2 separate regions of the Homo sapiens genome follow, and region 1 is linked to region 2. Evidence: fine-mapped QTL for protein levels in blood plasma. A gene starts in region 2. The other region holds a variant in brackets. All regions are shown on one strand. Distances are from middle to middle. Region 1 overlaps STX7 (syntaxin 7). Region 2 holds the start of STX7 (syntaxin 7).

The links. PIP is the posterior inclusion probability: the model's chance that the variant is causal. Protein levels are from antibody-based Olink assays in UK Biobank. Linkage for the fine-mapping came from a reference panel and not from the study's own genotypes, which makes the PIPs less certain.
Region 1: its variant is fine-mapped to the plasma level of the STX7 protein (UK Biobank, PIP above 0.99).

The regions. Positions count from the first base shown.
Region 1 is chr6:132,444,391-132,458,499 of GRCh38, reverse strand. It overlaps STX7 (syntaxin 7), which reads left to right. Exons shown (of 10, transcript NM_003569.3): 10 at 1-12,633. Among named protein-coding and RNA genes, the nearest start is that of MOXD1, 50 kb to the right of the region's middle. The variant A/G (reference allele first, on the strand shown) is at 1,101.
Region 2 is chr6:132,505,165-132,520,426 of GRCh38, reverse strand. It overlaps STX7 (syntaxin 7), which reads left to right and starts at 7,311. Exons shown (of 10, transcript NM_003569.3): 1 at 7,311-7,420. It also overlaps the pseudogene RPL21P66. RefSeq lists enhancers at 7,005-7,204, 7,562-8,063 and a silencer at 7,355-7,844.

The DNA.
Region 1 (14,109 bases), 61 kb after region 2:
GCTCAAAAGAAATACTCAAACACAGACTGATATTAACCAGCCAGGTAAATTGAACGACAATGTGGCATTAGGTATTTGGCTGTTTATTGGTCGTTAAATACTATGGTTTTGCAATATGATTGATGGTAAAAGAGTGATGTCATATTGATACTAGAGTAGCTTGTTTTTTTAGTAGGTGTGGGACCATCTCTTTTACAAGTGCAACTCAGTCTAGGACAGCCATGGATGCAGTGTCTGGAGTTGGACCCTCTGAGCCCGCTGGCTGCCCCAGTAGCATCTGCATTGGTGACCAAGGACACTGCACTTTGAAGAGGTCGCCACTGGGTTATTTAGTGTCTTCACTGCTTTTGTTAAAAATTGTAAAATTTTGTACACAAAAAGTTGTGTTTTTGAATATCAATTGTTTAGACACACCTACAATGATAAATAAGTGCCTTTAAAGGCCCCTCTTTCCATGAAATACATCTGTGGTTTAGCAAGGAAAGTACAAAATAGTTTATGTAGTTGGTATAATTTTTATTTGTGTCTTCATGTAGAAAAAATGAATGTCATAATAAAATATAAAACTTACGTAAAGAAAATAAAGTCATTGTCCACCTTAATAGCTAAGGTCCACAAGGGTAACTTATGCAGCATTTATTTTTTTTGAAAGTCAAAATTGAATTTATTTCTTTCACATGGCTGGTTTGCTGCAATATGAAGTTTCAGAATGGGCTGAAGTAAGTTGATTGAGGGATTTGAGTTGAATGACATTTTCAAGTTCATTTAAATATGATAAAAATTCATTGGTGGTAAATAACATCTGTCTTTCCTGGAAAAAAAAAAGTTGTGTATTTTCATGATTCAGTTAAAACAAAAAATGAGCCTGTGAATCCCAGGCCTTTTTAGTCCTCCATAACATTTGAACAGTTTGACTTGTCAGCAAAGAAATACACTTATCAAATTTTAAACCAATGGGAGCCTGAAAGTGTTACAGTGTACTGCTTCTTTGACAAAATTCTGTTTAACAACTACCCTAACATAATTTATAAATCAATTAAGATAAAACCATTTTTTTCTGAGTATTTAGGAATTTGTGTCCTCAAAATACTGTGACATGA[A/G]AGATAGGAAAGAAATTACCTGGTTGCCAGACATGCACGATTATCTTTCCTCATTTCAGCTGGATTTTCCAAAGTCAGTAGATTGGATAAAGCAGCATCTCATTCACTGAGGTCACAAGATAGGTAGGAAACTTCTTTAATGTGAATTTTGCATATTTTAACAATTCAGTTAGAAAAACAGAAACCACTTGATGGATTATAAGTGTAAAGTGTTTTAACATAGGGAATTAGACATCAAAAGGGTGGGTGAGGAAGGTGTCTGCGGCCCCAAAGTGGGTGGATCTCAGGAGCTGGCCCAGGCACTGCTGTGACTCTTGAGAACATCCAGAAGGCTGTGCTGTTGGCGTGCAGCACTGACAGTGTGTCTCAGGGAGCTGTCCCCAGCTGTCAGCTGTTAATAGCTCCAAAGCCAGTGCCTTGCAAGAGATTTTGAAACTGCTGTGAAACTCATGTCCTCTGCCCGCCTACACTTCTGTCTGCAGTGGCCTCTGAGGAAAGATGGTCTCTCCTTTTCTCATGGTCAACTCTCAACTTAGAACCAGAGACAGAAGGAGTTTGTGGGAAGTGTGGTTTCTGGTCTACCTGCACTGCAGAGGACATTCTAGAAAGAGAAGTGAGTTGACAGTCTAGCATAATTGTGAAACAAACACTGAGATGTACAGTTCAAACCACGTGAAGTGGAAGCCTCAGAATTTTCCTCACTTTCATTAAAGATTCTTTGATGGAAAAATTTAGAAGCATTGGCTCTAGATGGTAAGCAAGTCATTTTTTTCCAACCAAAATAAAAAATACATATACTAAGCTTCTGGGGCCCCAGGACTTAACACAGTTTCCTTCCTTCCTTCCCTTCTTCCTTCCCTCCCGTAGTAGTTGCTTAATAAATACTTAATTTGGCACTTATTTGGGGCCGGCTTTTTGCCAGGCTACTACATGCCTGGGCATAGTGTTCTAAGAGTGAACCAAAAGAATAAGCTTCCTGCCCTCAGGGAGTTTATGTTTTGTTATTTGGCATATAAAAAGAACTTGGTGTGTTAAAAGAAGGGAAATAGCTGTGTGAAAGGAATGAGGCAAGGAAGAAAGGGAATGTCTAAATATAAATCTCCGTTTGGACCAGCCTCCTGTTTATCCAGTTTTCCTTACTAAGTAACTGAATTTCATTTTCTTTTCTTAATTGACAGACTACCAGAAAATTGCTAGTTTTCTAAAGAGAAACTACTGATTTGAGTGATGATCTGTGTGTAATGGCTCCAAAAAGGAGCCGTTCTCTTGGTGGCAGCAGTTGGATTCAGAGCTTGGGCATCCTGATCATCAGGACAGACATTTACAGGATATGTATAGAATTACTGCCCCAAATAGAGGGCAAAGCACTAGACAGAAGGGTGAGATCCAAGGGGAATTTGGAATCTATATTTCATCAGAATGCACTCAAAGCAAAAACAGTAAGTATGCTCCATATAAAGAAATGTTTCTTAAAATGTTTTTAATTTAACCCTACCCATCCCTTGGCAAATCTTTTTCTTTTAAATCAAATAGGAATAAAGAAGAAAATCTTCCTATTGGCCCATTTTCTCATTATTCAAATACCATATCAATACACCAATTTTAATTCTTTGTTTTTGTAATCATTTGGTTAACATGAATATTATGTAATATTTTTCTCCAAATAATCCTAATTTTAAATGCAGAAATAGAGCTAAATAACACACTAAATAGGTTTTTGTAGACACTGTAGCTTCTGGCAAGTTTTTAAGAGGTTGGTCACTTAATTGCTTAGAGTGGGATTCCCGTAGGTTTTGTGTAGTGATGGCATTTATGCTTAAAATGTAAGTGGTGGAAGGCAAAACCAGATTTCCTGTCCAGTCGTTACACGCACAACACCTCTACTTGTTGACGAGGGAGTTTTCTAGAACTGAATTGAATCTTTAAATAAACTTGAAAGGGCATTAATTCCCACTTTGGCCAACCCAAAGTACAAATTTTTAAGTGTTTACTGTAAGTATCGTTAGGCAGTAGTTACTAACTCCAACACCTAATAGCATTGGTAGAAAGCTTATAAATGCAGTTATTTAGCCTCGACTAAGATTTTTCTGATACCTAGTTTCACTTTTTAATGCCCTCTGAAAGTTTTTTGATCAGTTGTTTAATGGGAGATCTGAAATGTTAAACTCAGACCAGAAAGAAGAGAACCTGTTTTCTAGAAATTAGGTTTTTAATCCAAGTAAGATGCAAGCTTTTGCTTTTTTAATAACTTGTATAGCTAAAAACTTGACGGTGAAAAGCTCTCAGATCAAAGCTGATCCTTCTGTCAGTAATGATTCTAAAAATAAGCAAGATTTTAATGGGGAATATATTTTATTTCATTCTTATCTCAAACCTAGGTACTGTGGTCGTTTTGAGTTCATTTCGAGGCATTTTCAATGTGCCTCAGGCCACATCCAACCTCTTCCCAGGGCCAGATTTAATGTTCAGCCTCATAAAGGTTATCATAGTTTTAACATTTAAGTACTATTTTGCAGTGGGTATATACCAAAATTTGCTAATAGTAAGATAACCTTAGTTATATATCATTCACGTTAGTTCTATCTTGGAGGCAATAAACATTTCTTGTTCAAGAAATTCATGTTCTATCTTGGAGGCAATAAACAAACATTTTTTGTTCAAAATTAGGGCTACCCTATTGTCCTTATGTCTTTTCCTGATCTGTGGTCAAACATTTTTCTTAGTCATTTAGAAATTTTCTATGTTGTTTTAAATTTTCTTTAAATCTAGAATGGAGTATGTGACCAATACTTTCCTTTGGAATGGTATGGACATTTGAAATAGAGCCCATTCTTTATAAAGTATAAAATATGTTTAATGCTAGTATTTTTAACTAAACTTTTGAGAAACTAGATTCACATGCTGTTGTAAGAAATAATACAGAGACCTCTTTCGTGTACCTTTCACTTTGTTTCCCACACAGTGAACATCTTTCAAAACTGTCATACAATATCATACCCAGGATACTGACACTGGTATAGCTAAGATAGAGAACGTTTCCACACAGAACTTTTTCTAGCACAGGGATCCCTCATCTTGCTTTTGATGACCATACCCACTTCACTCCCATCCCTACTCCCTTCTTAACCCTTGGCAACCATAATCTGTTCTCCATTTTTATAGTTTTTTTTTTTTTCATTTCAATAAAGCTGTATAACTGGAATCATAATAATATGTAACCTTTTGGGATTGGCTTTTTTTCATTTAGCATGATTTTCTGGAGGTTAATCCAGCTTATTATGTGTATCAAGTCTATTGACAGGTACTTTTTAGTGTGAATAGAATCCCATAGTATAGATGTACCACAGTTTGTTTAACTGTTCACCTGCTGAGAGACATTGGGCCAGTTTTTGGCTACTATAAATAAAGTTGCTATAAACATTTGTGTACAAGTTTTTGTGTGAACATAATCTAGTTTTCTGGGTCAAATGCCCAGCAGTTATATAGTAGTTGGGTCATATAGTAGTTGAATGTTTAGTTTTTAAGAAATTGCCAAACTTATACCAAGTAGCTGTACTATTTTATATACCCACCAGTGGTGTATGAGTGATCTAGTTGCTTCATGTCCTTTTCAGCATTTGGTGGTGTCTCTTTTTTATTTTAGTCATTCTGATAAGTGTATAGTGACAGCTCATTGCAGTTTTGATTTACCATTTTCCCTTCGCTAATGGCAATGATGTTGAGCATCTTTGTTTCATATGCTTATTTGCCACCTGTATCTCTTCTTTAGTGACATGTTTCTTCATGTCTTTTCTAATTGGATTTTTTTTCTGTTGAGTTTTGAGGGCTTTTAAATAATGTGTGTGTGTGCCTCTGTGTGTGTGTGTGTGTATTTTTTTCTAGATACTAGTCCTTTGTTGGATGTGTGATTTGCAAATATTTCCTCCCAGTCAGTAGCATGTCTTTTCATTTCTCTTTTCTGGGCCTTTCACAGAGCAGAAGTGTTTAATTTTGATGAAGTCCACTCTATCCATTTTTCTTTTTATGGATCATGCTTCTGGTATCAAGAACTTTGCCTCTCTCCTTAGATCCCCCAAATTTTCTCTTTTATGTTGTTTTCTAAAAGTATTATAGTTTACGTTTTACTTTTAAGTCTATATTCCATTTTCAGTTAATTTTGTATAAAATGTGAGACTTAGGTCTGGGTTCATTTTTTTTGTTGTTGCCTATGGATATTCAATTACTCCAACATGATATTTGTCGAAAAGGCTCTTTTTTGTCCATTGAATTGTTTTTGCACCTCTGTCAAAAATCAGTTGAGCAAAAATGAGTTAATGAGAAATCAGTTGGGCACATTCGTGTGGGTCTATATCTGGGTTTTCTATTCTTTTCCATTAGACTATGTGTCTATACCTCCACCAACACCAAAATCTTGATTACTGTAGTAAGTCTTGAAATCAAATAGGCTGGTTTATTCCACTTTCTTTTTCAAAATTGTTTTAGCCACTTAGTTCCTTTGTCTTCCCGTATAAACTTTGGAATAATCTTGTCTGTATCTATTCAAATATCTTACTGGGATTTTGACAGGAACTATGTTATACCTATACATCAATTTGGGGAGATTTGACATCTTTACCATGTTAAGCCTTCCCGATCATGATCACAGGATCACTTCACTTCATTTCAGTTAAATTTTGTTTTCCTTCATCAGTATTGTGTGGTTTTCAGCATACAAGGTCTGTACATGTTTTGTTAGATTTATACCTAAGCAATTTAATTTTTGAGAGAGATTGTAAATGGCATTGTATTTTGAATTTCCTGTTCACATGTCTATTCTAAGTACATAGAAATAAAGTGAATTTTTCTATTTTGTATACTGAGACCTTATTGAGCCCACTTACTCATTTTAGGGGATTTTGATTGATTCCTTGGGATTTTTTTTTTATATAGATAGTCATGTCATCTGCAAATAATGAATAGTTTTATCTCTTCATTTCTGACCTATATTCCTTTTTTTTTTCCTTTCAGTCCCTTAATGCAGTGGGTAGAAATTCCAGCAGAAATAAAAGCAGTGAGAGTAGAGATCCTTGGCTTGTTTCTGGTCTTAGGCAGAAAGGATTCAGTGTTTCACCATGAAGTATAATGTTAGCTGTAGGTTTTTAAAGTAGATGCTCTTGCTAAAGTTAAGGAAGTTATCTTTTATTCCTTTTTTTCTGCAAGTTTTTATTATGAATTTTATGTTGAATTTTGTCAAATGCTTTTTCTGCCTTAATTTACATAATGCCATTTTTCTTCTTTAGCCCATTCATGTGGTAGATACATTGATTGATTTTTGAATGTTGAGCCATTGTTACATCCCTGAGATAAACTCCACTTGGTCGTGGTGTATCTTTGTATATATAGCTTAATTCTTTTGGCTAATATTTTGTTAAGGATTTTTGCATCTGTTTTAATGCGACATACTGGTTGGTGGTATCAGGGTAATACTAGCTTCAAAATGAACTGGAAAGTATTCCTTTCTCTTCTGTTTTCTAAAGCGGATTGTATAGAATTGGTGTCAGCGCTTTTTAAAACATTTGATAGAACTTTCCAATGAAATCATCTGGGCCTGGAGATTTTGGGGGAGGGAGTTCTTTTTATTGTAATTTCCACTTTTACAATAGTTATATGGCTGTTTAATTTATCTATTTCATATTGAGTTGTGACAGTTTGTATTTTTAGATGAATTAGTCCATTTCATCTAAGCTCTCAGATTTATATGTAGAGTTTTTGGTTGTATTTTTTGTTAGACTTTTGATGTCTGATATTCCAAAACTCCTTCATTTATCATTTCCTTTCTGTTTAGAGCACTCCTTTAGCCTTATTATTATTATTGTAGTTCCATTGGCAACAAATTCTCTCAGTTTTCTTTCATCTGAAAATGTCTTGATTTTCCCTTGATATCTGAAGAATATTTACATTAGACATAGACTTGTAGGTTTATAGTTCTTTTCTTTCAGCACTTGAAAATTGTTCTGCCACTTCCAGCCAAGAGGGGTGGCTCACGCCTGTAAGCCCAGCACTTTGGGAAGCCAAGGCGGGCAGATCACTTGAGGTCAGGAGTTTGAGACCAGCCTGGCTAACATGGCGAAACCCCGCCTCTACTAAAAATACAAAAATTAGCCGGCATGGTGGTGCACATCTGTAATCCCAGCCATTTGGGAAGCTGAGGCAGGAGAATCACTTGAACCCGTAGGCGGAGATTACAGTGAGCTGAGATCGCACCACTGTACTCCAGTCTGAGCAACAGAACGAGACTCCTTGTCAAAAAAAAAAAAAAGGAAAGAAAATTTCATGGTTCCCCATGAGAAATCCAGTTTTTTAAATTGTTTTGGTCCCTATAGATAGGTGTCATTTGTCTTTTTTCTTTTTCTTTTTTTCCTTTGTGTTTAGTTTTTAGTTGTTTAACCATGATGTATCTTGTAGATTTGGGGGGTTTATTATATTTGAGGTCTTCTCACCATCTATATGTTTATGTCTTTTGCCAATTTTGGGGAGTTTTCAGCTGTCATTTTTTTCAAGAACTTTTTCAGTCTTCCTTCTTTCTTCTTTCTTTTGAGACTCTGATGACACAAATGTTAGATTTATTGTAGTTCCGTAAGTCCCTGAGGTTCTGTTCATCTTTGTTCTGCCTGTTTTCTTCTGTTGTTCAGACTGTGTAATTTCTATCATTTTATCTTCAGATTTATTCATTCTTTCTGCAGTAGCTTCCATTCTGCTATTGAGCCTATCAATTAAGTGTTTCATATTGATTCCTGCATTTTTCAATTTTAAAATTTCTGGCCCTTTACCGAAAATGTTGGTTGACCCCTGGAGTATAAACCTATACTATAGAAGAGAGTATCAATTTTTTTTTTTTTGAGAGGATCAATTTAAACAAAAGTTGGTCTCTTTAAATAAATAAAGTACACATAACTTGGTGAAACCGATTTGGAAAAAAACAGAAGACATAAAAAATTTAGGAATGAAAGTACAGATAAATAACCAAACATAGATTTTAAAATAATAAGACACTATAAACAACTTTATGCCAATATATCACAAAACAGAAAATGAATAATTTATATGAAAAATGCAAATTACCAAAATCAACTACGAAGTAGATGATTTCTGCTTCCTGCCATATGGTTGACTAGGTATACTCAAGGATCCTCCTGCTAAAATACAGTTAGTTCTTGGATAAAATACAACACACATAATATTAGTTCATTTCCTGGCTCATTAGAAAGAAAGATAATCACTAAAGGCTATTACCAATGAGAGTGGGCTAAAATTAAAGTAGTTGAGAAACAGGAAAACTGTGCCTCTGAGACTTAAGCCATGGACTCCAGGCAAAGTAAAGAAAGTGAACCTAAGATTCCTTCATAAAACCAGGAATGCTTTAAAGCATTAAAGTAGTCCTAAGTCAGTGGACTCTGGTGGTTACTCTAAGAAGTGGATGAAAATCCCCTCCGAAGGAAAGCCTCCCTAATTAATGCTTCTAGATTAATCAAACATGCAAGGAAACACACCATTTGCATTGAGAAACAGTAGATTTAGATATTCAAGGAATTCAGGTATTGCAATTAGCAGAAGTAGAATAACAGTTATATGTTTAAATAATGTATGAATTAAAACGAACATGAAATGAGAGATGTGTTAAAAGGCAGATATTAAAAAGAACCAAAGACAACTTAGGTATGAAATTTAATTATTGAAATATATAACATAATGAATGGTTTAAGAGCAGATTCACCACAACTAAAGGAATTGTTGACTATCAAGTTTTAACTGAGGAAACAACATATTGCAGCAAAAACAGGTAAAGGGATAGAAAATAAGAATTAGAGATTATGAGACCTGAAGGATAGAATGGGAAGGTTTAATATGTGCTGATTGGAGTCTAAGAAGTAAAAAATAGAAAAAAATTGAGGTAATTGCTGACAAATTTCCAGAGCTAAGAAAAGCCTGGGACCTGGTATGGTGGCTTATGCCTGTAATCACAGCATTTTGGGAGGCCAAAGCAGAAGGATCACTTGAAGCCAGGAGTTTGAGATCAACCTGGGAAATGAAGCAAGAGCCCCCACTCCATCTCTACAAAAAAAATTAAGAATTAGCCAGATGTGGTGACATGAACCAGTAGTCCCAGCTACTTGGGAGGCTCAAGTGGGAGGATCACTTGAGCCCAAGAGTTTAAGACCAGCCTGAGCAACATGGTGAAACTCCATCTGTACAAAAAATACAAAAATTAGCCAGGCATGGTGGCACACACCTGTGGTCCCAGCTACTCAAGAGGCTGAGGAGGGAGGATCACACGAGCCCAGGAGTTCAAGGCTGCAGTGAGCTATGATGGTGCCACTGTACCCTGTCTAAAAAAAAAAAAAGTGGATCCACATATACAAGAAGCAAAATGTATATCAACCAGGAAAAGGAAGCCAATGTATATTCATTATACTCAAACTTCAGAACAATAAAGGCAAAGATATCTTAAAAGCAGCCAGAATAACTTATCCACTTTTAAAGGAATAACGAATTGACAGACCTTTTTTTTTTTTTTTTTTTTTTGAGACAGAGTCTTGCTCTGTCACCCATGATGGAGTGCAGTGGTGTGATTTCTGCTCACTGCAACCTCCATTTCCCGGGTTCAATTGATTCTCCTGCCTCAGCCTCCCGAGTAGCTGGGAGTACAGGTGTGCGCCACCACAACCTGGCTAATTTTTTTGTATTTTTAGTAAAGACGTGATTTTGCCATGTTGGCCAGGCTGTTCTCGAACTCCTGACTTCAGGTGATCTACCTGCCTTGGCCTCCCAAAATGCTGGGATTAGAGGCATGAGCCACTGCACCTGGCCAACAGTAGACTTTTCAGTGCCAAAACTGGAAGGCAAAAGACAGTGGAATAACATCATTAAGGTACTGAGAGAATAACTCAATAGAATGAGTGCCCAGTGAAATTATCTTTCAAAATCAAGGGTATATTAAAAACACTTTTTTCTCAAAATGAGAATTTACAAACAAGGGACTTTCACTTAAGAATAAAGATGAATTTTAGAGTACAGCAAAATGACTAGGAGGAAAGTCTGAGATGCAAGAAGGTATGGTGAGCTAAAAAATCAGTAATCATGGGAAATGTAAATAAATACTGTCTATATTAAGAAGTATTTACTCTGTGGAGTAAAAAAGAGCGTAATTAAAATACTAGCAACATTTTACATAACTCAGGAAATGTATATGTGGGGAAAGTGTCCGGGAGCACTTAGAAGTTAGTGTGAGTGCTCCAAGATCCTGATACTCTTTAGGATGGAAGTTAAGATAATGAATGACTTTAGATGTTGTTAATCTAAGTACTTAACAGAAAATTTTCAGATAACCTTTAAAGAATAGCAATACAATATAACTTTCAAACCAGTAGAGAGGAAACATTCTGAAATAAGGGAAAAACACTTTAGAAATCCCAACTTTGATAGACCACAAAAATGCAAGAAGGAAGAAAAAGCATAGAAAAAGCAAAGAAATGGCATAGTATATAATAAATGGTTACAATAAATATAAATTGCCTATCTCACCAGATTAATAAAAAAAAAAGTCTACCTTGTTCAATATATACAGTTTACAAAAGACAGTACAAGGACAGAGAAAGACAAAAAGTAGAATTAGGGAAAATAAAACAAGCAAATATACCTGGTTAGGATAGCTGTATCAGTATTAGCCTTACAAATATTAAAGTGAAAAGCATTAATAAGGATAAGGAGACTCTCAAAAATAATAAAAATTTCAACTGAAGTAGGTATAACAGTTCTAAACAAAGTTATTAAAGTAAAAATGTAGAGGGCAAAACGGAAAAAAAAACTATTATGTTGTATTTGAAGTCACTCAATTTTTAGCTCGAGCAGCAAAAAAGTAAATAGAACAACATGGTAACCAAAGTTGATTCAATTAATACATAAAGGATCATGTTCCCCCAATTTAGAGCATGTGCATATTTCTTAAGCATGTATAAAAGATTTAGAAGGAAAATGATAAAGGAATGTTTTGGGGACCTCTGATAGGGAAAGATTTCTTAGAAAATCTGCAAAAGATATTAACCATAATCTACATAAAGTCAACTGTTTTATTTCAAGCCTCTCTGGAAATAGTTTTGTTGACTGATAAGAAACGCTCTATGTCAGTCAGCTAATCAATGTCTAGTGAGTCTAACTCTTTCCACTACACAGTAAGTTCCATCTTAGGGTGTTTTACTTAAAAGCCTGGTGTCAAATGTTACACGCACAAAAACTTATTAGTATCTTTTTAACCAATGTATCTTAGGAGATACGGAATTATTTCTAACACACTGGTTGTATTTACTAATTTTCCGCTGAGCCATCATAAAAATAGAAGTCACATCGTCACTATTTCTTGCTTGTCCAACCCAGTGTCTATGGTACCCTCGGCAGTTATTCATGGCTCCTAGGCCTTCTTTTAGAGTACTGTCTCTCTTCTATTGGCTTTGGATGGAATTGACTCCATCCTAACTGCAGAAATGATAGGCACTGCTTTACATAAATCAGTCAGCCTAATAGCATTCTTTTTGCCTCAGAGATTGGTTCAGAGATGGGGAAAAACCCACTCTAGGCAATCAGCTTGTGACTTACTTTCCTCCAATTGGTGATCCAATTAGGGCAGTGTGTGGAATGTGCTGCTCTGTATGTGCAGCCAGATGCTCATGTTCATAAAAAACATTTTAATACTGTGATGGAAGATACAGCTTCGAGACAAAGACACAAGCTTGGGTAGAGTCATTCATTCATTTAGTAAGCATTTGCTGAGTGCTTAATAAATGCTGGGCCCTGAGAAAAAGCAAAATCTTATTCAGCACATTCTGACATTGGGGACAATGCGATAGTTGATAGCTTCCACACTTAATTAGAAACAAAGATTATCTCTTAAAACCTCATTCTTGTATCTAGGAAGACTTTTGTTTTCCCAATCAGAAATTGTGGTTCCAGAAAAAGAACAAGACAATGAAAACATTGTATAAAAGGTTTCTTTCAAACTTTTTTCAATTGACAGTTTTTCACCCCAATCATCTTGATGCAGAGAGGCTTCAGAAACACAAGTGACTCTGTGTTCAGACCAAGTACTTGGCCTCGAGAAGATGAATGATCAGACCAACTCACCATATGATTATAAGGGTCAGGTAGTTTAAAAAGAAATTACAATCTGAATTGAACCATGGATGAACAGTGTTGCTATTGAGCTTCGAATCCCAGCTAATAAGCATAACCTTGTAAAGAGAGGTTACTGTTTGGGAAACTGCATGTTCTTGCAGGAGGGCAAAGCTTTTGCAATATAAATAGTTGTAAGGGTACTAGCTTTCATCTTTAATACCTTAACCCTCTGTGTTTAGAGTTTTTGTATCCAGGGCTGAATTGAGAATTTTAGAAACCTTGAACACTGAAGAGATTGTAATAACAACCCCATGTGTAATTTATAAAATCTTCAAAAGAAAATTTACTTTTTCAAAATGTTATAAAACTCTGAATACTGAAATGAAAATGGCTTCATTTTTACATTTTATTTCAAGACGCTACATAAATTCATCAAAGTTAAACTTTTCTTAGTCATTCCTGCTGTTTTGCTGGTGCCCTCGAAGACTCAGCTTGTTGAGTAATAATTCAGCACTGATTGCATTACAAGTATCTACTGATTTTCATGTAATTTTCCAAAATATAGATGGAGAAGAAGAACATTATTTCTGAGAGGAATTTGATTGTGTATGGTGAAGAGTATGTTTTGAGCTTGGCTCCTCTAGACTTACTTTCTTCCTGAATGGGTCTAATAAGAAGCACCCTTCAATCCTAAATATATCTTTCTCTTACACAATGACAAGGTAATGTGGGTTTTAAAAAAACAATGCAGGTCTTCATCTTGGCACTGTAGAATGCTTGATGTACATTAAACATGATTGGAGGAGACATTCAGTTGGATAAGGGTCACTGTGATTCACTGTGATTCAAAAGGCCATGTCAGGCCCATTGCTCTGGCAAAATTTAATATGCAAGAGTTGGTAGGAATGTGCCTCAGAGAAGTAGGCTGAGGTTGAGCCAGTCATTTCTGACTAAATAAAGAAGAATGCTTGAAAATCTGTTCTTCCCTCATCCTCGAAGCTGTTAATGATTTGTAAAATTTTCCTTCTTTTTATTTGATCATAGTATTAAGAGCAAATTAAAAGACCAACAGCTCTTGCCTAAGGCTTCCAATATGACATTTGAGTATTATTATTGTTTTTTGTTTTCTTTTTTAAATCTAAAAACCTTCTGGAGCTCTCTGGAATAGAGAAAAAAAAAAGGTTGACATTCTTTTTTCTTTTTGGATAAATTGTTAACCAGAAAACATTTGTCATATCTAGATCTTAAAGCAAAAGTAAATATTATCTTCATTGAGAAAAACAATAATCTCAGTTCCTTACTTTGTATTTCAATACTTTTTAATTTTTGTTTCTCTCCTTAAGACTATTTCTAAATTATCTAAATTTAGTGGCATAATTGTCTCTTATATAACGATACTATTACTTGGAAGGCATTATTCTTTTTCATTGAAATATAATTCATCATTGAGAAATAAAGGCACAGACACACAGGCAAACACATACTACAATGGCACGATTTTATGTTTTGAATAGCATTTAAGTCACAATTTAATATGTGCTGCTTTTCTTTGGGTCATCAATTGTATTACATTCTCTTAGATTCTTAGTTTCTTTGCCCTTAGAATTCCTTTAAAAATGATGATGGCTGTTGGGTTGGGAGCAGTTAACAGGGAAAGGGAAATAGTCTTTCAAAATCAGTCTTTTAGGGAGATAAGTTGTTCCATTTAAATTACAATACTCAACTAGAGGATTTCAGAAGAAATGAGAACGCTGTAATTGAACCACAGTGCTTCTTATTTTGCCCCCCATGCCCATCCCTTTTAACCCATAAAGAAATAGTTTTCTTTTATTGAAATTCTCTCCAGTGGATATTGACTAAAGTT
Region 2 (15,262 bases):
AATCAAACAATTCCGGAAAACAAAAAAGTCAGAGGACTCATATTATCCAATTTCAAAACTTACTCTAGAGCTTCAGTAATCAAGACAGCATGATGTCGGAGAAAATATATGCATAGATTAATAGAAGAGAATATGAAAAATAGAGAGAGGTTCACAGAAACATAGTCAACTGAGTTTTGGCAAAAATGCAAAGGCAATTCAATGGAGAAAAGATAGACTTTTCAACAAAGGTACTGAAATAATTGGACATTCATATGCAAAAAAACAAATGAAATGAACCTTAACAGATACCTGATACATTCTACAAAAATTAACTCAAAATGAATTGTAAACCTGTATGTGAAATGTAAAACCATAAACCTTTGAGAATAAAATATAGGAAAAATTTGTATAACTTTGGGTTTGGTGATGAGCTTTTAAATTAATCACTAAAGGCATAATTTATAAAACAAAAATATGGCAACCTAAAATTTATCAAAATTAAAGACTTATTTCTCCATGAAAGACACCATTAAGAGAATGAGCTGGGTGTGGTGGCATGTGCATATAGTTCTAGCTACTTGGGAGGCTGAGAAGAAAGGATTGCTTGAGCCCAGAAGTTTAAAAAGTTGTATGTCCAACAATCAGGCCTATGTATAGCCCCTGCATTCTAGTCTGGGCAACATAGCCAGATCCCAGATCTTTTCTGAAAGAAAATTTAAAAAATTTTAAAAGAAGAGAATGAGAAGATAAGCTACAGAGCTACAGACTAGGAGAAAATACATGTAAATGATATATTTGATAAAGTACCAGAATACAAAAATAATTCTTAAAACTCAACAGTGGGAAGACAACCCAATAAAAAGCAGGCAAAAGATTTGAATTAACATTTCACTAAAGAAGACAGATGGATTTCAAATAAGCATACATAAAATCACAATGACATGCCACTACACACCCATGAGAATGAAAAAAAAATGTTTTTCAATTCAACAATATCAAAAAGTGACAAAGAAGTAGAGTAACAGAAATCCTCAATCATTGCTGATGGGAATGCAAAATGATACAGCCACCTTGGAAAACAATTTGGAAGTATTTTGTAAAATTAAATGTAGAGCCAGAATTGCCATCTTCCAGTAATTTGCCAAAATGATTAACACAAAGGGAAAGAGGAGAGGCACCTGATACATGTTCTCTAGGCCTTTTAGAAAACATGGAGTTGTTCCTTTGGTCACATACATGCGAATCTACAAGAAAGGTTATACCGTAGTCATCAAGAGGTTGGGTGCTGTTCAAAAATGAATGCCCCACAACTATCACCATGGAAAAACTGGAAGAGTCTACAATGTAACCCAGCATACTGTTGGCACTGTTGTAAACAAACAAGTTAACGGCATGATTCTTGCCAAGATAATTGATGTGCATATTGAGCATATTAAGTACTCTAAGTGCCGAGACAGCTTCCTCAAACACGTGAAGGAAAACGATCAGAAAAGGATCTCAAGGAGAAAGTCACCTGAGTTCAATTAAAGCAGCAGCCTGCTCCATCCAGAGAAGCACACTGTGTGAGAACCAATAAGAAGGAGGCTGCTAGAACTTATTTCCTATGAATTCATGCCATAATAGGTGTAAAAAAAATACCTGTAAATTGTAAAAACATTTCTCTTCATTGAGTAGACGTGTGGTGGCCCCTCCCCCGGAGCAATATTTAAAGCAAAAATAAATGAATAAATATACACTTATACAGTCCAACAGACCTACTTCTAGATATTCACTCAAATGATTGAAAACTTCTATTTTTACCAAAATCTGTATTTAAGTATTTATAGAAGTTTTATTCATAATTGCCAAAAATTGGAAACAACCAACAGGTGAATGGATAAATAAGCTGTGTTATATCCAAACAATGGAATATTATTCAGCCACAAAAAAAAACAAACTATAGATTTATACAACAATGTGGATGTATCTTAAATGCATTCTGCTAAGTGAAAGAAATCAGACCCAAAAGGTTATATATTGTATGATTGAATTTATAGGACATTCTGGAAAAGGCAAAACTCTGGTGATAGAAAACATAAGTGGTTGCCAAGGGTGGGAGGAGGGGGATGGGTTGAATAAGGGTTGTTGTGAAAGGGAATTTTCAGTATGGTAGAACTGTTCTCTATGGTATTGGAGTTATGGATACATTACTCTATATATCTGTCAAAAATCCACAGAACTATATACCACAAACAATGAGCTTTATACAAATTTAAAAAATCAATCAGTATATTTGTGGATCATAGGATAAAATGCAGATCTATGACAACTGAATTTAACTGCAAAGTCAACATAACCTAATTTCACTGAAGGGGATGGGTAAAGAGCCGACCTTGGTGATTTTTAGAAAACATTGTTTTGACTCAATATTATAAGGCTAAAGACAAAAAGAATTGTACATAAACACTGCACTAAAGATTTTTTTCTCACACAGAGTAGGAGTTAGCAATTCTGAAGCTATTAGGTTGGTGCAAAGGTAATTGCGGTTTAATGGCAAAAACCACAATTACCTTTGCACCAACCTAATTTTTTACATTATAGAAATAAGAACATAAATGGTAGATAATGGAAGCTAGGTTTCTCACTTCTAGCGAAAGAAGCTAAAAATTAGGACAAGGGAAGGCTAGAATGACCCCTATAATGTTGGATTAGAATTGGGAATGCCTAGATGAACTCGTGTTTATATATATAGATAAAATCTGATATAGCTATGGATATGTAAAACAACTGGAAAACAACTTGGCAGTTTCTTGTAAAATTAAATTTATAGACATACTTTATACAAGGCTTATACTGCATATAATGTATACTGTATACATTTCTCTATGGATCAATTCCCTGATTCCTTACCCCAACTCACACAAACCCCACCTCTGCCCAGTCCAAGCACTTTTATTTTTACCAAATATATTTTGGGGCATGCAGCCAACATGGGGATGGCATGAAGCCTGGAGTAAATATCCTACATACATGAATTAGTATATATAAATTTATTTCCTAGCTCTGTCCATTGAGGGGAGCGTAGAAGCACTGACACCCTAGTAACAATGAGAAGGTTAGTGCCTTGATCTTGATTTCTTTTCTTTTCTTCTTTTTGGTAGGGTGGGGGACAGGGTCTCACTCTGTTGTCCACACTGCAGTGCAGTGGCATGATCTTGGCTCACTGCAGCCTTGACCTCTTGGGCTCAGGCAATCCTCCCACCTCAGCCTCCTGAGTAGCTGGGACTATAGCTACTGTGCACATCACCACACCCAGCTAATTTTTGTAGAGATGGGTGTAATAGCCAAGGTTCTCTAGTGGAACAGAATTAATGGAATACATATATATATATATATATATATATATATATATATATATATATATATATATGAGTTTATTAAGTATGAACTCACATGATCACAAGGTCCCATAGGCTGTCTGCAGGCTAAGGAGCAAGGAGAGCCAGTCCGAGTTCCAAAACTGAAGAACTTGGATGCTCAGGGGCAGGAAGCGTTCAGCACGGGAGAAAGATATAGGGTGGGAGGCTAGGCTAGTCTAGCCTTTTCACATTTTTCTGCCTGCTTTATATTTGCTGGCAGCTGATTAGATGGTGCCCACCAGATTAAGGGTGGGCCTGTGTTCTCCAGCCCACTGACTCAAATGTTAATCTCTGTTGGCGACATCTTCACAGACACACCCAAGATCAATACTTTGCATCCTTCAATCCAATCAAGTTGACACTCAGTATTAACCATCACAACAGGGTTTTGCCCCATTGCCTAGGCTGGCCTCGAACTTCTGGGCTCAAATGATCTGCCTGCCTTCGCCTTCCAAAGTGCTGGGTTTACAGGTGTGAGCCATGCTACTGTGCCTGGTGGTCCTGGCCTTTGATTTCTAAATAGCTTTTTCCAATAAAAAGAAGAAGTGCTTAATAGTAAAATGACTGATTCTAGAGCTGGAGCAGGGAGAATACAAGCTAATTTAGTTGGTACTGCTATACCAATGCTGATTTCTTAGTTTTGACAAGTGGACCATGGTTATGTAAGATGTTAACATTAAGGAAACATTAGGGGAACCTGGGTGAGGTATATACAGGAGTGCTGTACTATCTTTGCAGCTCTTCTATAAATCTAAAATTATTCCAAAATAAAGAATCGTTTAAAACATGGGGGAGAAGAAAAAATGTTTTCTAGCTAATGGGAACTACGTGAGCGAAGCACAGAAATAAGAAAACCCCTGGTTTGTGACTGGGGAGCTAGCTGCTGGGATGGAGGGGAGAGCAGACAGAGAAAGAGGAGTTATTTAAGCCAACATATTCCAAGCATAAATTTTGATGCTTGGAAAGGCAGGATCAGACCATGTGGTCCTTATATGTATAGGGACCATATGATGCATCATCTGAACTGAAGCACGTTTGAGAATGAAAGGGCATGCTCAGAAGACAGGCGGCCAGGACAACAAGCATAAACTAGGGCTGTCCTAGCAAACTAAATATATGGTCACCCTGTGTATATGCAGGGGGCTTGGACTTGATTTTGAGAGCAGTGTTTTCCATTATGCATATTTAAAAGTTTTACAGGCAAGTTCCACCATCAAATACACTCATAAAATACTGGGTAAAAGAAATTTTTACTTGTTTCTTTCCTGAACCACTTCTCAGCGTCTTTAATTTACAAATATGCTCTGTGAATCTTCAAGAATGCAATATAATATGTTTCCCAAACATTTCTTTGTAGACCAATTCCCTGATTCCTTATTTCAACCCACACAATTCCCCAGCTCTCCCCAATCTAATTATTTTGGTTTTTTTTCTTAAGAAATACAGTTCAGGGAATGCTGCAATCATGGAAATGGCATGAAGCCTGGAGCAAAGTTCTCAGATTAGAGCTTCAAATATTCAGTGGTGGCTTTGACAATAATAAAGTTGAGAAGACCTGGAGATAGAAGATCCAACAAGGAGGCTATTGCAGTGGATCAGGATGTCAACCGTGAGGGACAGAGAGAAGAGGGCACATATGAACAACACTTAGGAGGTAAAATTAGAAACGAAAATACCAGTCATCAGGAGGTAAAATTAGAAACAAATATACCGGTCATCATGCTATAATGGCCCATGTAAGATTTCCACGGGATATCTGTTTATTACCTCCATGTTCAAAAGCTAGGGCAAAATCAATTCTGTGCTTGATATATGACTAGGCACTTGTGTGATCTTAAACAGAAAACAAGTAGACTGTAGAGAGACATGGAAGGTGCTTAACAATAAGGCACAACTGAACTAACTCTTGTTTATTAAGTATTAATTTAAGCTTCCTTTTAATCTAGCATAGATTTTTTAAACCAGTTGTGGTTTTCCCACTGTATTATAAATAAAAACAAACCTTCATAAGTCAACTTGTCCTTCTCACTTACCAATAAGTCCCTGTTTGCTCTATTTACCTTTATGCGTCTTTTACTTCTTTGGCTTTCCCAGAAGATCACATAGTGGTCATGTAAAAAATATTTTTAGTTCAGTAACTATTAAATGAACCAGCAATTATCTCCTTCTATTCCCTGGAATTGCTATCCCAGACACTGGAGATACAGCAGTGGACAGTTCTCCATCCTACATGAGAGATGTTACATAGGAGGTATTTATGGTATTTATATTAATAAGGACACCACAAGTGTGCAGATAACATTCCCCACTCAACAACTTCTGGTTTCCTTCAAAATCTCTCCAAGAAGGCCCAAATCTCGCAAATTACTATTTCTGAAAATCCAAATTACAAGCTTTCAGTCATAGGTAACTTCTGCACATGGAAATGATTTATTTTGGGAGATGTGACATTATCACTCATCAAATTAGGAGACTTTTAAAGCCCTACCACTTTCAAGACACCTGGCTGAATTTAACTTGGTAGCAGCCAGATTCACAGATGGAATACTGTGTCAGGAACTCTTAGTAATTCATTTATCTTAATACTTCTAAATTTTGCAAGTTTGTCTAGACTATAATTCTTTTTTTTCCCATTTGAATACCAAAGGATGAAATCTTATTCTAAGTTTTCAAAAGACCTGGAAGGAATCCACTCATAACATATTTTAAAACAAGGAATTGGAATGAGCCCAAGATGAGGGCTCAGACAGCTAAGTTTTGGGCCCAGCATAGTCAGTAACTATCAGGGTAACTTGAAGAGGCCACTTAATCTCAGGTTCTTCTGTAGTGCATTGTACCTTCCCTCCCCGGAGCCCAGAGTTCTATCAAAGGTAATATGAATGGGTATTTGGAAAGTGCACTAAACCTCACATGGATGTAAGATCCTTTCATGTGTTCCTTCAATGATTGAAATGTTTCTTCCTACGTTCACCAGCCACTTCCTAATTCTCAAGTACAATGCACTACTTTCAGTTCTTTATTTACTTGAACTTTGTGTAACAGGTGACATCATGGACAATTCCCTCCTTTTTTCCTTCATTCTCTAGTTTACCTTTTCCTGGTTTATTTCCTATCTTGTGGGTTACTCGTTTTCAGGGTTATTCTTTCTCTGTCCATCTCTCTTAAGCAGACAACATTCCACACTTAGTGTTGGTGAGTTCCAATCAGAATTCTATCCTGGGTTTTGTTTTTTTCCACCTAAGTGCGTCTGGACTTTTGATATCACCTATCCGGGTAATCATTTTAGAAAATAGTGTTGCCTTAATATAGGCAAAGGCTAAGCCAATCTATCTTCTAATTAATTTGGAGAGGGCTTTCTTTCATTTGTAGCAATTGATGCTTTTCATCTAACAATTACAATATATTTGCATATTTATCATTGGAACTGTCTCTGCTTGTTTTAAACCCTGTGAAAACTACGCCCTGCTTTTCAGGAATGCTTAGAATGACTTGTATGTACTAGGAAAACTTGTTTACAAGTGAGCACCCAGAGATGACTCTTCACTTATTCCTTCATTGTTCCTGCTAGGATTGTGTACTCGCCTTTGCATTTTTCGATAGAGCTGTCAACGCGATCTACTGCAGTTAAAGGTTAGCAAACAAGACAGGCAAGAGCTAATGGGGCGGGGTGAAGACCCGCGTGCAAGAAGGCTGGCTTCACCAGATAAAGAAGACAACTGTCCTCCATTCTGTCCTTTTTTGCACGCAGGCTAAGAGGCGTTCACCATCTCTACGTCAGGCTTCAAAGAACAGCTCCCTTGCAATTTTGCTGATACCCCCATTCCTTAGCTTGGAACCGGAGGGGCGGTGAGGGCCGCTGTCACTCAGCCCCGCGGGCCAATAGAAAAGGGGTGAACCCCGCCTTCTTCCTGAGTTGTGCTGCGGGCATGCGCACTGGGCGTCCCCACGCCACCGCCCATCAGCTGAGAATTGCAGCTGAGGGCTCCGGGGTAGGTGGGTGACGGCGGTCGGAGGTGTAGGAGGGAGCCGTGGAGGTCCAGGTAAGAGGACCCTGGGGAGGGGGCTCCCTGGCCGGGCGACAGGGAGGCGCGGTGCCCCTGCGGCTGCTGCGCCTTCTTGTTTGTGCGCGTGGTCAGGTGGCCGCCGCCCTGCGCTCTGCAGCAGGCACTCGGGAGGCTAGGAAGGGCGGGACTGCCCCAGCTCCCGGAGCGCCTGCGGCTCCCCACGCCCCCCGGCCGGGTGCAAGGGCGCGGCGCGTTCCGCATTCCGGGTGCGCGCGGCTGTGGTCAGGTGGGCCTACCCAGCCACGCACCCGCCGCGGTCCCCTGGGCAGAGCTCCGGAGGCGCACGGCTGGCGGAGCGCACCCCGGGGAGGGCGCCAGAGCCGGCTGGGGCCCAGCTCAGGAATCCAGACACGACCAAATGACCTCTTCCTCTTTTCAACTCACGGATTGAAAAACACACTAAACTTCCCGAATATAGAGGAACTGAAAAATGTATGGCTGTAGCAGGCGAACCGTGTATGTTTATTTATTCAGAGGATCGTAGTATTGTTTTTTTAATTTGGCTTGATGACTTTAACATACTTTGACATTCTTTGAGTATACACCTTTAATTAATTTACATAAAAACCTTTAAACGTACATAAAATATTTCTAGTATTTCCTCCACCTTGTTTTCTAGTTACTTTCTTTAAATTCAGACAAAGAAAAAAAGTTGCATTTCTGATCAAATGCTGTGTGTTTTTTCCCACAAATTTCTTACATTTGTTTGGCTCTTATCTGTATACGTTAATTTTTGTTTACCTCAGATCGTTGTATTCTGACTATAATTATATATAATATATAAAACTTGCCCAGAATCTGGAAGAAAAGAAAGTAATTATGAAATGCTGTGCTATTTAATAATGTTGGAAGTGGACATTTCTTCTGCAGGTTCTCTGAGCACACCTGGGCAGAGGCTGATAACGGTGTTAAACTGTGTTTTGTGTTGTGGACAGGCCTTATAGGCTACTTTGAGAAGTTGGCCTCAGACTCGTGACTAGTTAAGAATTATGCTCTTAACTTCACAGTTTCTGTAGAGGTTAATATGATACCATATTAACTGATTAACATCATAATTTTTCCTCAGATATGTTACTTATGTTGCTCTTGATAACAAAATCAATCCTTATTTTGGTTATGACCCCAAACTTTAAGTGCTGATGATTGAAAAGTAAATTATAGAAAATATTCACAGTAAGTCTGAGTGAAGTTTGCTGTGATTCCATTTAATTTGCAAGTTTCATGTGTGAAAGTATGAAAAAAACAATCCTCGGTATTGTGAACTAAAACCAAGTAGTACAAAAGGTCAGTGATGAAAGAGCTAAGGCCAAAGAATACAGTTAATGTAGTTTTTGCAGAGGATACTTATGTAGACAGAGCACCCTCACATTCCTTGAGCATTTACTATGCACCAGGCACTGTAGATTACACAGGATGACAAGGTCATCTCTCTCCTGTTTATATTCCAGAAGTAGCTCCTGTTTGTATTCCAGAGGTGTAGGGATAAATAATAAACAGTGATTAATTCGACTTTTGAGTATTGTGAAGCAGTAAGTTAGATTGACAAAGAGTGACCAGTGGTGAGTTCTCACTTTCATATCAGAGTGGTCACAAAGGTTTCTCTAGCATGTGATGAGGCCTTGCTGGGGAGAAGGAGCCAGTCACGTGGAGATCATGGGAAGAGCCTTCTAGAAATAGGAAATGGCACCCAGCAAAGGCCCAAGGCAGCAAGAAGCCTGGGACCTTCGGTATCTGAAAGAAGGCACTGGAATTTTATGTTTTGGAAATGGTAATATTTACCCTCACGCTGGGTGTGTGTTCTTAGGAGGTGGGTACATTCATTCATTCTACAAATGTTTGTTAAGCACTTGTGATGTAGCCAGGCAGTGAGAATAGTGCAGTCCACAAAACAGACAAAAAAATGCTCACCCCCCACCCCTCAGAACTTACTTGGGGTAGAGGGTATAGAGAAGTCCAGTTGTTTATGCTGATGCTAATGATTAAGAAAGTGAAATTGACTACTTCTTTGCCCAGGGTAGATTTATAGAGCATGAGATATATGCTAAATGGAAATCTTAAGGATTCTACAGTATATCGGATTTTAACTGGGAGTAGTGTTTGACACTTCAAGATTAAATTTTAACATTCCTTTTGTTCATTCCTTTGTGTTCTTTAGAAGCCGTCTTGAGAAGACTCTCATCTGAGTGTTGCACTTTGATTCTCCCTTCCTGTTTTTCTCTTTATAGTGTTTGTATATCTTCATAGAAAGATGATTATTGCAATGTGGAGATTAGCACTGTGCAATAGATCTTTCTGTGATAATGGAAGTGGTCTATGAATGAGCTGTCCAAGCTGCTGGCCACTAGCCACACAGAATTTTTGAACATTTGAAAGGTGTCTAGTGTGACTGAGGAACTGATTTTTTTCATTTAACTTAATTTTAATTAATTTTAATTTTTTAAAAACGAGAGCTACAATGTAATTTAAGTGATACACAATATAAAATGGTGTAAATTGTCACATGAAAAAATGAAATGTAGAGTAAAAGTGTAGTTTCTTACTGCAATCAGTTATCTTGTTAGCAGCTTAAAATAACCTGTAATAAGATTTTTTTGCTTTTATTATTTTAATCGACAGATAATGATTTACATATTTGTGGATACATGTGATACATCAGTAGATGTGTACAATGTGTAATGATCAAATCAGGGTAATTAGCATATCCATTACCTCAAACATTTAACATTTCTTTGTGTTAAGAGCATTCACAATTCATTCTTTCTTCTAAGTATTTGAAAATATGCAATAAATTGTAATTAATTGTAGTCACCTTTTAGGGGTATAGAACACTAGACTTCATTCCTCCTACCTAGCTGTATTTTGGTGTTAGTTAACCAACCTTTGGCTATCCCCTTCCCGCCATCCTTCTCTGCTTCTAGTAACCACTATAATTTTAACAGCCCATTTAGTTAGTGGCTAGTCTGTTAGTACAGGTCTAGGTAATGAATTATATAATTATTATTCTGAGCAATTAAATAGGAATTCTGAGTGGGCTTTCAAAAGTATTCAACAAGAGTACTTTAGTGCGTAGCAGCTCTGGGCTAGGTAATGGAGACTGATGTGGAAAGCAGACATCTGAATAACTCAGCATCCATTTAGCCTATATGCAGAGATCATAAGCTTTTAATCAATTTGTAGTTACCTATCCTGTCTGTCTATGCTTGTATATATATTTTTTAAAGACAACCATTTGGTTCCTTTCCTTTGTGTGTCTCATTATCAAAAGAGCCAACTGTTGTTGCCTTTTAGATACCACTTATTAGCAGAATAATAGAGAAAAGGAGTAAGCTATTCCTCTGTGTTACCTTGATCAACTCATGTAGTTATCCCAAACATATTCCTTCATCTTAGGAGTGGGAATAGCAAAACTTCATATGGGGCATGCAGAAAAGTGGTAAATTTGGTTTTTCTTTTGTCTTTTTTTATTTTATGTTATGTTATGTTATGTTATGTTATGTTATGTTATGTTATGTTATGTTATGTTATGTTATTTTGAGACGAGTCTCGCTCTGTCGCCGGGCTGGAGTGCAGTGGCGTGATCTTGGCTCACTGCAACCTCCGCCTCCTGGGTTCAAGCGATTGTCCTGCCTCAGCCTCCTGAGTAGCTGGCACTACAGGCGCATGCCACCACACCCAGTTAATTTTTTTAGTAGAGATGAGATTTCACCATGTTGGCCAGGATGGTCTCAATCTCTTGACCTTGTCATCTGCCTGTCTTGGCCTTCCAAAGTTCCGGGATTACAGGCGTGAGCCACCGCGCCCAGCCCAAATTTGGTTTTTCTAACTGAGTTCACCTGCCCTCAATTTTGTTATACAAGGAAGCAGTATGGCTTAGTGTTTAAAAAATGTCGGCTCTGTGGTTATTTTCAAATATTTGCTCCTTTGCTTATAATGATAATGAGGCATAATGATATGCCTCAGTTTCTTCATGTAAAAAAATCACATTAGCAATTATACCCACATGATAGGCTTATAAGAATTAACTGAGAAAATAAATTTAAAAGTCATAAGCACAATGCTTAGGAAATGTAAGTCCTGGATGAGTGTTGGCCATTGTTAACTTTGTTTTATTTTACACATCTTTCTTCTCTATCTTTTGCAAATTGCTTTTCATTCTTCACACATGATTCCTGGCTAGATACAGTGGCTCAAACCTGTAATCCCAGCACTTTGGGAGGCTGAGACTGGAGGATCGCATGAGCCCAGGAGTTCAAGACCAGTCTGGGCAACAAAGTGAGACCCCCATCTCTATAAAAAAATCAAAAAATTAGTGGGATGTGGTGGCAGGTGCCTGTGGACCCAGCTACTCGGGATGCTGAGATGGGAGGATTGCCTGAGCCTGGAAGTCAGGGCTGCAGTGAGTCGTAATCACACCACTGCACTCCAGCCTGGGTGCTCCTGTCTCAAACAACAACAACGCCAAACAAAGAAAAAGTAAAACAAAACTCATAATTCCAGTCAATCTAAGTAGCACCTCTTTGGGTGAATGAAGCCACTTGCCAATTGTCTCACCAGCAGGAACTTTCTCACATTTAGTAGCTTGAGGAAAGGGATGAAGAAAATTGATTGTGTTTGTGACTAAGTGATTGATTTTCCAGAGAGGAAAAAAGGTGGCCTTGAAAGAAAACAGTGAGAAGACTTGGGCTACACTGGTGTGAGTTTTAAGGGTAAGGAAAATGCTGTAGAATACTGTCCTTGACTTGATGGAACTCTTTATGGGAGAGAGAGTAGGCCTCAGGTGTGCTTGCATGGTTTTGAGACAGGTGATGAGTTTCTCTTGGTCTTGTGCTGATGCTGGTCCTGCAGCTGCAAGAACAGATCATAACTTTCCTCTGTGTAGGGTGGAAAAGCATTTGTTCTCTGGATGTGCATTATCTCATTTTGATTCTGGCAGTGGGCCCAAATGCTAAGTGTCTTGCCCAAAGTAGAAATTTCCAGTTGCTACTTCCATGGTGTGCCGCACAGGCAATGGCTGAGTTCTTGTAGCTTCACAGACATGTAGACACGAGAGAAAGCCAAGGGTACGAGCTGGAGACATGGATGTGCGACTCATTCAGGTATAGATTAAAATGGAACCATGTATATGGAGGAGCATCCCCAGAGATTACATGAATAACAAACTGAACATTTTTTCATTCAATGTGTTTGTTTTGGCTTGTAAGCCAGTTTTTCCAGAGATCTACTTGATAGAGGGAAAGGAGAAAGGAAGATGTCATTGAACCAAGAGAAAATTGTCTTTCTCCATACCTTGGAATATTATTTGGCAATAATGAAGGAATATTATTTGGCAATAATGAAGGAATGAAGGACTGATATATGATACAGCACAGATGGACTTTGGAAGCATACTAAGAGAAAGAAGCTAGTCTCGAAGAACACATTGTATGATTCCATTCCTATGAAATGTCCAGAATAGCAAAGCTATAAAGATACAAAGTAGATTAGTAGTCACCTTTGGCCAGTGAGGTTGGGGAGAAATGGAGAGCGATTGCTAATGATTACAAACTTTCCTTTTAGCGTAATAGAAATGTTCTAAAAGTGATGATTGTACAATGTTGTAAATATATTAAAAACCATTGGCTTGTGTACTTCAAGTAGGTGTATTGTATTGCCATATCTCAATAAATTATATCTCAATAAAGCCATTTTATTTATATAAATTTAAGGGGTGCACATGCAGTTTTGTTACATGGTTATATTGCATAGCGTGAAGTCTGGGCTTTTAGTGTAATCATCACCTGAATAATGTACATTGTACGCATTAAGTAATTTCTCATCCCTCACCCTCCCATCCTTTTGAGTCTCCAATGTCTTCTTATTCCACTCTCTGTCCATGTGTACACATTATTTAGGTTCCACTTACAAGTGAGAACATGCAGCATTTGACTTTTTTCTGAGTCATTTCACTTAAGATAATGGCCTCCAGTTCATCTGTGTTGCTGTGAAAGACATAACTTCAGTCTTTTTTAAGGTTGAATAGTATTCCATTGCATTTATATACACTACATTTTCTTTATCCATTCAGGAATGTTAATAGACACTTGATGGGCACTTAGGTTAATTCCAAATCTTTGTTCTTGTGAATATTGCTACAATAGACATATGAGTGCAGATTATCTTTTTGGTATAATGGTTTTTTTTTTCTTTTGGGTAGATACCCAGTAACGAGGTTACTGGATCAAATATTAATTCTATTTTTAGTTCTTTGATGACTTGCCATGCTGTTTTCTGTAGAGGTTGTACTACTTTACAGTCTCACCAACAGTGTGTGTGTTCCTGTTTCTCTGCATTCTTGCCAACATCTGTACTTGTTTGACTTTTTTTCTTTTTTTTCCGTTCAAGATGTGTTTGTGGATGAATTTTTAATAGCCATTCTGACTGTTGTGAGATGATGTCTCATTGTGGTATTAATTTGCATTTATCTGGTGCTTACTGATGTTAAACATTTTTCATGTGCTTCTTGGCCATTTGTATGTCTTCTTTTGAAAAATGTCTATTCATGTGCTTTGCCCCCTTTTTAATGGGGTTATTTGTGGGGTTTTTTGTTGAGTTGTTTGAGTTTCTTGTAAATTCTGGATATTAATCTCGTTGGATGTGTAGTTTGCAGATATTTTTCTCCCATTCTGCAGGTTGTCTGTTCATTCTGTTTATTATTTCTTTTGCTGTGCAAAAGCTTTTTAGTTTAATTAAATCTCATTTTGTCTGTTTTTTGTCTTGTTGCCTGTGCTTTTGAGGTCTTAGTCATAAATTCTTTTCCTAAACCAATGTCCAGAAGAGTTTTCCCTATATTTTCTTTTAGTATTTTAATCGTTTTAGGTATTACTTTTAAGTCTTTAATCCATCTTGAGTCGATTTTTTTTTTTATATGTTGACAGATAAGGGTCCAGTTTCACTCTTCCGCATGGGGCGATCCAATTTTCCCAGCACCATGTATTGAAAAGGGCGTCCTTTCCTCAGTGTATGTTTTTGTCAACTTTGTCAAAAAGATCAATTGACTGTAGATATGTGACTTTACTTCTGACTTCTCTATTCCATTCCATTGTTCTATGTGTCTGTTTTTATATGAATATCATGCTGTTTTAGTTACTATACCCTTTTAGTATAATTTGAGGTCAGGCAATGAGATGCCTCCAGCTTTGTTCTTTTTCTTAAAATTGCTTTGGCTATTCAAAACCTGTGTTTTTTTTTTTTTTTTTTTTTTTTTAAGTGACTTGGAGATGCATTTAAAATTGCATGGTTTCAAGGATGTTCCGGATGGTGTTGGTGTCATTGAATCCCCATGTCTACTCTTGTTCTGTCTGGGCCCAAGTCCAAGGCTACCTGGAAGGAAGTTTATTCCTGTCTCCCCACTGTAGTGGTCCAGCTGTCTGACTTTAGGTTTGAATTTACCCTTTAATGAAATTGCTTTTGGATCCATCTCTAGGATTTGGTGAGACCCAGAGAGCCCAGAATAGATCAGCTGTACCTGAGAGGGAAGTTGGAGAATATCTAAAAGCCACCAGGACTTTCAGCGTGGCCAGGCACATTCAAAGTGCACCAGAGTTCCAGGCATAGAACCAGTACTGTTCTAATGGTCTCAACAGTTCAGCTGTTGTACTTCCTGCCAACACTGTCCCTTAGAGCAAAGACACATACTTCACTGTGGCTTCTTCTCTACCAGAAATCTTCTGTGGCATTAGTTCTATGTGGTAGCAAGCATGGATAGCCTTGGCATCAGAACCCTGGGACTGAATCTCACCTCCACCTGTGGGTGGGTTGGGTTACCATTACTTAATCATA